2 linked regions of the Homo sapiens genome follow. The protein of the gene in region 2 interacts with the protein of the main gene of each other region in a biochemical or structural test. Each region holds a gene or a part of one and is shown on either strand. Other genes may lie near its edges.

Region 1 (3,747 bases), on a different chromosome or scaffold from region 2:
CTCGATCTGTCACCCAGCCTGGAGTGCAGTGGTGCAAACATGGCTCACTGTAGCCTCAAACTCCTGGGCTCCAGCAATCCTCCCACCTCAGCCTCCCTAGTAGCTGGGTCTACAGGGGCACGCCACCATGCCCAGCTAATTTTTAAAATTTTTTTGTAGAGATGAGGTCTTGCCATGGTATGGTGCCCAGGCTGCGTAATAGTTTAAAATAATAATTTAAAATTGAATATTTACTGCATTCTAAGCATAGTAGGTGATTCTATACATTTTTGGACTTTAATTCTCACAATAACCTTTCATTTTTCAGATGAGACATTTAATGTCCAGAAATGTCCCCCACAGTCACAGAAACAGAAGAACAGATATTTAAAAACCTGAGTCTTGCAGAAAAATTAGAACCCTCATATATTGCTAGTGGGGATGTAAACGAGGATGTAAAATGGAAATGTTTGTCAGGTCCTCAAAATGTTCAAGACGGTTACCATGACACAATTCCGCTCCTAAGTATTTATCAGAGAATTTAAAACACATGCCCACACAAAAACTTGTTCATGAATGTTGAAGAGCTAGAAAGTGAAAACAACCTAATTTTTATCATCTGATGAATGGATAAATAAAATGTGGTTTATCCATACAATGTAATTACTATTTGGCCATCAAAAGAAATGAGGTGCTTATGTGAATTTAATGAAAAGGAAAAAAAAAAGAATGAAGTACTAATATACGCTATAATATGAATGAACTTTTTTCTTCTCTTTTCTTTTCTTTTTTTTTTTTTGAGACAGAGTCTCACTCTGTCACCTAGGCTGGAGTGCAATGGCACGATCTCAGCTCACTGCAACCTCCACCTCCCGGGTTCAAGGGATTCTCGTGCCTCGGCCTCCTGAGTTGCTGGGACTACAGGTATCTGCCACCACACCCGGCTAATTTTTGTATTTTGAGTATAGATGGGGTTTCACTATGTTGTCCAGGCTGGTCTCGAACTCCTGACCTCGTGATCTGCCCGCCTCAGCCTCCCAAAGTGCTGGGATTACAGGCGTGAGCCACCGCGCCCGGCCATTATGAATGAACTTTGACAACATCATGCCAAGTGAAAAAAGCCAGACAAAGAGGCCATAAATCATGATTCCATTAAATGAAGTGTCCGGAATAGATTAACCCATAGAAACAGAAAACAGATTACGGGCTGGGAAGAAAGGGGAATGGGAATTATTACTAATGGGTATCAGGTTTCTTTGAGGGATGATGAAAAATTCTGGAATTAGACAATGGTGATGGTTACACAACTTTGAATACATATACTAAAACCCACGGAACTGTACACTTTAACAGGGTAAACTTTATGGTCTATGTATTATATCTTGATTTTTTTATTAAAAAATTTTCTAAAAAGCCAAAACCAAAAAACCTAGTTCTGATGCCAGAGACCTCAAATACTATTTACATGCTGCCATCCTGCCTTTAGGTTTTTCTGGTGGACATACTGTATCTTAATATTTTGGCCAGGCACGGTGACTCATGCCTGTAATCGCAGCACTTTGGGAGAATGAGGCAGGTGGATCACCTGAGGTCAGGAGTTTGAGACCAGCTTGACCAATATGGTGAAACCCTCTCTACTACAAATATGAAAATTAGCCGGGCATGGTGGGAGGGGGCCTGTAATCCCAGCTACTGGAGAGACTGAGGCAGAAGGATTGCTTGAACCCAGGAGGCGGAGGTTGCAGTGACCTGAGATTGCACCACTGTACTCGAGCCTGGGTGACACAGTGAGACTCCATCTCAAATATTTTTTATCAAATTCATCAGATGCTTGACCAACCAAACTGAAACTCAGGCCACCAGTTATACGGAAAAATGTGAACTTAGGTTCTGCTTCTACACACGGATGAGAAACATCTACATTTTTATCAGTTAATTAGCAGCAAATTATCAAAGTTTCCGACAGCCTATTGCACTACTATAATAATGCAAAAGGGTGCATCTAAGGATGGCTGTACCTATCAGCCAGTGGCATGAAACAGGATTTTTGCCTTTTCTGTTTCCTATATTCACATAATCAGAAGAGCCTGTTTTTTTAAAGGCTGGCAGTTATATGTTCAACCAATAACCTGAGAAAATGCTTGTAATAAGCTAAATCAAAAAGAGAGGACACAAAACTAAACATCACAACTACAATTTTAGAGGAACAAAAACTTCCTCTTAAAAGGCTGAGCGTGTACCAGGTGTGGTGGCTTACACCTGTCATCCTAGCACTTTGGGAGGTCGAGGCAGGAGGACCTCTTGAGCCCAGGAGTTTGAGATCAGCTGGGCAACAGAGCAAGACCCCCATTCTCTACAAAATAATTTAAAAATTAGCCGGGCATAGTGGCGCCTGTAGTCCTAGCTACTCCAGAGCCTAAGGCAGGAGGGATTGCTTGAATCCAGGAGTTCAAGGCTACAGTGAGCTATGATCATGCCACCTGTATGTGCCCCAGAGTATGGGTGACAGAGCAAAACCCTGTCTCAAAAAATAAAAATAAAAATAAGGCTGAGAGTAAATATGACAGAATAGTGGAATTACAGATAGGTAATTATCACTTTATTCTTTTACCTGTTTTCTAAATGTAACAGAAGGAACACATACTACTTTTAGAATCAAGAGGAAAAACATAAAAAAATTACATAAATAGATGGATTTACAAAATATGCTAAGAAACAAATATAAAACACCACTCTTTAGCTTGGTAATATTTTTTAAAGTGACAAATATAGGATCCTTTCTCCTGAACATCTCTAGACCCCCAAAACCACAGTCACATTCAAGACAATACAGAACTACACTGGCATACTACACTACACTGATATCAGCAAACTTTTTAAAAGTAACACTTTTTCAGCTTTTCAACAGGCAAGAACTGGAAAGTTCAAAGTAAAGAGATCAGAATTAGTAATTCCTCTGCAGAACACATTAGTATTTTTGGATATATACATAATTTAAGGATTCACTTAACAACATTACATCTTATCATGGATCAAGATACAGAAACCAGACTTAAAATAGGACAATGCAGCCAGGCTCAGTGGCTCGCCCTGTAACCCTAGCACTTTTCGAGGCCGAGGTGGGCGGGATCGCTTCAGCCCAAGAACAGGCAAGATAGTGAGACCTTCTTGCTACAAAAAATGTCAAAAATTAGCCAGGCAGGTCTAATGGCATGTCCTTGTTGTCTCAGCTACTCAAAAGGAAAAAAAACATAATTATTTAAAAAATATATACAAAATACAGAAGCTGGCTGGGTGTGATGGCTCATGCTTGTAATCCTAGCACTTTGGGAGGCCAAGGCAGGTGGATCACCTGAGGTCAGGAGTTCGAGACTAGCCTGGCCAACATGGTGAAACCCCGTCTCTACTAAAAATACAAACATTAGCTGGGCTTGGTGGCGGGCGCTTGTAATCCCAGCTACTGAGGAGGCAGAGGTTGCAGTGAGCCTAGATCATGCCATTGCACTCTGGCCTGGGAGACAAGAGTGAAACTCCATCTCAAAAAAAATAAACAAAATAAAATACAGACGCTATTGCTTTATTTTTATTTTTTTCAAATAGATACGGGGTCTTGCTATGTTGACCAGGCTGGCCTCAATGTGATCCTCCCAACCTGGCCTCCCAAAGTGCTGGGATAATAGGCGTGAGCCACCACACCTGGCCAGAAGCTATTGCTTCCTAACTCGAGCAGTATGGGCAATATCATCACTTGCATAACTTACCCTTATA
Region 2 (3,747 bases):
CCAGCCTCTGACAGACATCCTGGGCCTGCCTGCTTTCCTGGCCACTCCCGCCTTTTCCTGCCTGGCGTCCCGCAGGCCCAGCACAGGCCAGCCCTGTCCTGAGTGGGCCCTGGGCCCTGCCGTCCTGCAGGAGTGGGAGCTGCCCAGGGACGGTGAGTAGCACGAGAGCTGGGGTTTCTTACAGTGCTCTCCTGGTTCTGGATGTTACAGTGGATGCTCTTGAGGAATGACTTAGTTTTTATGAATTACTTCCTTAGATTGTAGGGGAGATTATAATTGGACACCCAGAGTAGGTACACTTCACAGCACTCCCTGTTCCCTTGTGGCTTTAGAAGCAGCTGGCAGGGATTTCCCACCCACCAGTGACACTCGCACCCTGCAGTCCTTGTTTCTGTGCTTTGAAAAGCACCTTCCTGGGTTGTCTTTCTTGGTTCCATGAGGTGGCCACCTTGTGAGACGAGAATTTATAACCCCCGTTTGCGGCAGGGCTCCAGGTGGTTGAGTCACACGTCTGAGGTCACACGGCTTTTAATAAAGGGGCCAAAGATGGAACTGCGGCCTCCCGCAAGTGCGCCAGGCTCCTGGCAGCTCGGCCTGGCCCTTCACGTCTCTTCCAGTGAGGCTCAGGTGGGTGCAGCCTGGGGTGGGACCCTCTGGTAGCCCTCGCAGGTCTTAGCACACTGTCTACTTCTTTTTTTTTTTTTTTTGAGATGGAGTCTTGCTCTGTTGCCAGGCTGGAGTGCAGTGGCATGATCTTGGCTCACTGCAGCCTCTGCCTCCTGGGTTCAAGCGATTCTCCTGTCTCAGCCCCCCGAGTAGCTGGGACTGCAGGCACGTGCCACCACGCCTGGCTAATTTTTGTATTTTCAGTAGAGATGGGGTTTCACCATATTGGCTAGGCTGGTCTCGAACTCCTGACCTTGTGATCCACCCGCCTCGGCCTTCCAAAGTGCTGGGATTACAGGCATTAACCACGGCGCCCAGCCACTTTGTCTGCTTCTTACGATACTAGAACTAGAGTGCAAAGGGCATCTTTTTCTGCTGGGACTGCAGCTTTTCTGAGATCTTGTTTATTTGCAAATTGTTAACCTCAGAGTCTTCTGAGCATGAAATGTTGGCCACTTTTCCTAACCAGCAATTTCATTTTCATTAAGGTTGAAATTATAAATTGAAAATGTTGGCTGGGCACGGTGGCTCACGCCTATAATCCCAGCACTTTGGGAGGCTGAGGTGGGCAGATCTCTTGAGGCCAGGAGTTCAAGACCAGCCTGGGCAACATAGCAAAACCTCGTCTCTACAAAAAATACAAAAATTAGCTGGGCACAGTGGTGCATGCCTGTAATCCCAGCTACTTTGGTGGCTGAGACACAAGAATCACTTGAATCCGGAGGCAGAGGTTGCAGTGAGCTGAGATGGTGCCACTGCACTCCAGCCTGGGTGACAGAGTGAGACCCTGTCTCAAAAAACAAGAACAATTAGAAAAAGAAAAAAAAAGTTCTGTTTAATAGTTCTTTAGTTTTGTGTTCATTTGTATGATCCACAAATATTTACTATCTACCTATACCTGGTCCTATGCTAGATGCTAGATACTTAAGAGTAAAAACAAGTTGGGTGTGGTGGCTTATGCCTATAATCCCAGCACTTCGGGAGGCTAAGGCAGGCAGATCACTTGAGCTCAGGAGTTTGGGACTAGCCTGAGCAACATGGCAAAACCCCATCTCTACAAAAAAATACAAAATCAGCGAGGTGTGGTGGCTCACACCTATAGTCCCAGCTACTCAGGAGGCTGAGGTAGGAGGATTGCTTGAGCCCAGGAGTTTGAAGCTGCAGTGAGCCAAGACCGCACGACTGCACTCCAACCTGGGTGTCACAGTGAGACTCTATCTCAAAAAAAACACAGCAGTAAAAACAGTAAAAACAATTGGTTGCGATGGCTCACACCTGTAATCTGAGCAGTGTGGAGGATCACTTGAGGTGCGGAGTGGATGACCAGCCTGGGCAACAGAGTGAGACCCTGATTCAAAATAAATAAATCAACAAACAAACAAACAACTGAGCCAGGTGTGGTGGCACCTGTAGTTCCCAGCTACAGCTAGATCCTGTCTCTATTTTATTAAAATAAAAAAGAAATTACTCTGCCAGGCTCAGTAGCTCACACCCATAGTTCTAGCACTTTGAGAGGCCAAGGCTGGTGGATCACTTGAGCACAGGAGTTCAAGACAGCCTGGAAAACAAGGCAAAACTCCATTTCTACAAAATTTCAAAAAATTAGGCATGGTGGCTTTTACCTGTGGTCTCAGCTACTCAGGAGGCTGAGGTGGGAGGATCACTTGAGCCCAGGAGATCAAGGCTGCAGTGAGCTGAGATTACACCATTGCACTCCAGCCTGGGTCTCAAAGAGAGACACTGTCTCAAACAACAACAACAAAAATTACTCAGAGTACCTTGTTTTCTGCTCTCAGACATGTACCTATTTTTCATTTAAAAAAAAGTTGAATTCAGCCAGGCACGGTGGCTCACGCCTGTAATCCCAGCACTTTGGGAGGCCGAGGCAGGTGGATCACCTGAGGTTAGGAGTTCGAGACTGGCCTGGCCAACGTGGTGAAACCCCATCTCTACTAAAAACCCAAAAATTAGTGGCGTGGTGGCACGCATCTATAATCCCAGCTACTCAGGAGCCTGAGGCAGGAGAATCTTTTGAACCCGGGAGGTGTAGGTTGCAGTGACTGGAGATTGCACCACTGCACTCCAGCCTGGGCAGGAAGAGTAAAACTCCTTCTCCAAAAAAAAAAAAAAAAAAAAGTTGAATTGTGTTTTATTCATTTTATTTTCATTTTTGAAATAGAGGCTCACTCTGTCGCCCAAGCTGGAGCTTAATGGCATGATATCAGCTCACTGCAAAATCTGCGTCCCAGGTTCAAGCCATTCTCCTGCTTCAGCCTCCTGAGTAGTTGGGATTACAGGCATGTGCCACCACACTTGGCTAATTATATTTATTTATTTATTTATTTTTGAGACGGAGTCTTGCTCTGTCGCCCAGGCTGGAGTGCAGTGGCGTGATCTCAATTCACTGCAACCTCCACCTCCCGGGTTCAAGCGATTCTTCTGCCTCAGTCTCCCGAGTAGCTGGGACTACAGGTGCCCGCCACCACACCTGGCTAATTTTTGTATTTTTAGTAGGGACAGGGTTTCACCATTTTGGCCAGACTGGTCTCGAACTCCTGACCTTGTGATCTGCCTGCCTTGGCTTCCCAAAGTGCTGGGATTACAGGCGTGAGCCACTGCGCCCGGCCTGTATTTATTTATTTTAATTTTTTTTTTTTCAGACAGAGTTTTGCTCTTGTTGCCCAGGCTCGAGTGCAATGGAGTGATCTCAGCTCACCACAACATCCACCTCCCTGGTTCAAGCAATTTGCCTGCCTCAGCCTCCTGAGTAGCTGGGATACAGGAGTTCGCCACCACACCCGGCTAATTTTGTATTTTCAGTAGAGACGGGGTTTTTCCATATTGGTCAGGCTGGTCTCGAACTCCCAACCTCAGGTGATCCTTCTGCCTCGGCCTCCCAAAGTGCTGGGATTACAGTCGTGAGCCATTGCGGCCAGCTGTTATATTTATTTTTAATTAATTAATTTTTTTGAGATGGGTCTTTATCACTCAGGTTGGAGCACAGTGGTGTGATCACATCTCACTGCAGCCTCGACCTTTTGGGCTCAAATGGTCCTCCTGGCTGGCGCTGTGGCTCACTCT

The links. Proteins that work in one complex are often made in the same cells at the same time.
Region 1: the proteins of RAB11FIP3 (region 2) and ARF4 form a complex in vitro, tested with the Homo sapiens proteins (one study listed by IntAct).

The regions. Positions count from the first base shown.
Region 1 is NC_000003.12:57,590,707-57,594,453, forward strand, and holds part of ARF4 (ADP-ribosylation factor 4), read right to left. Parts: intron 1-3,747.
Region 2 is NC_000016.10:477,505-481,251, forward strand, and holds part of RAB11FIP3 (rab11 family-interacting protein 3), read left to right. Parts: exon of another isoform or gene 1-152; intron 153-3,747. UniProt on the Homo sapiens protein: Downstream effector molecule for Rab11 GTPase which is involved in endocytic trafficking, cytokinesis and intracellular ciliogenesis by participating in membrane delivery. Recruited by Rab11 to endosomes where it links Rab11 to dynein motor complex.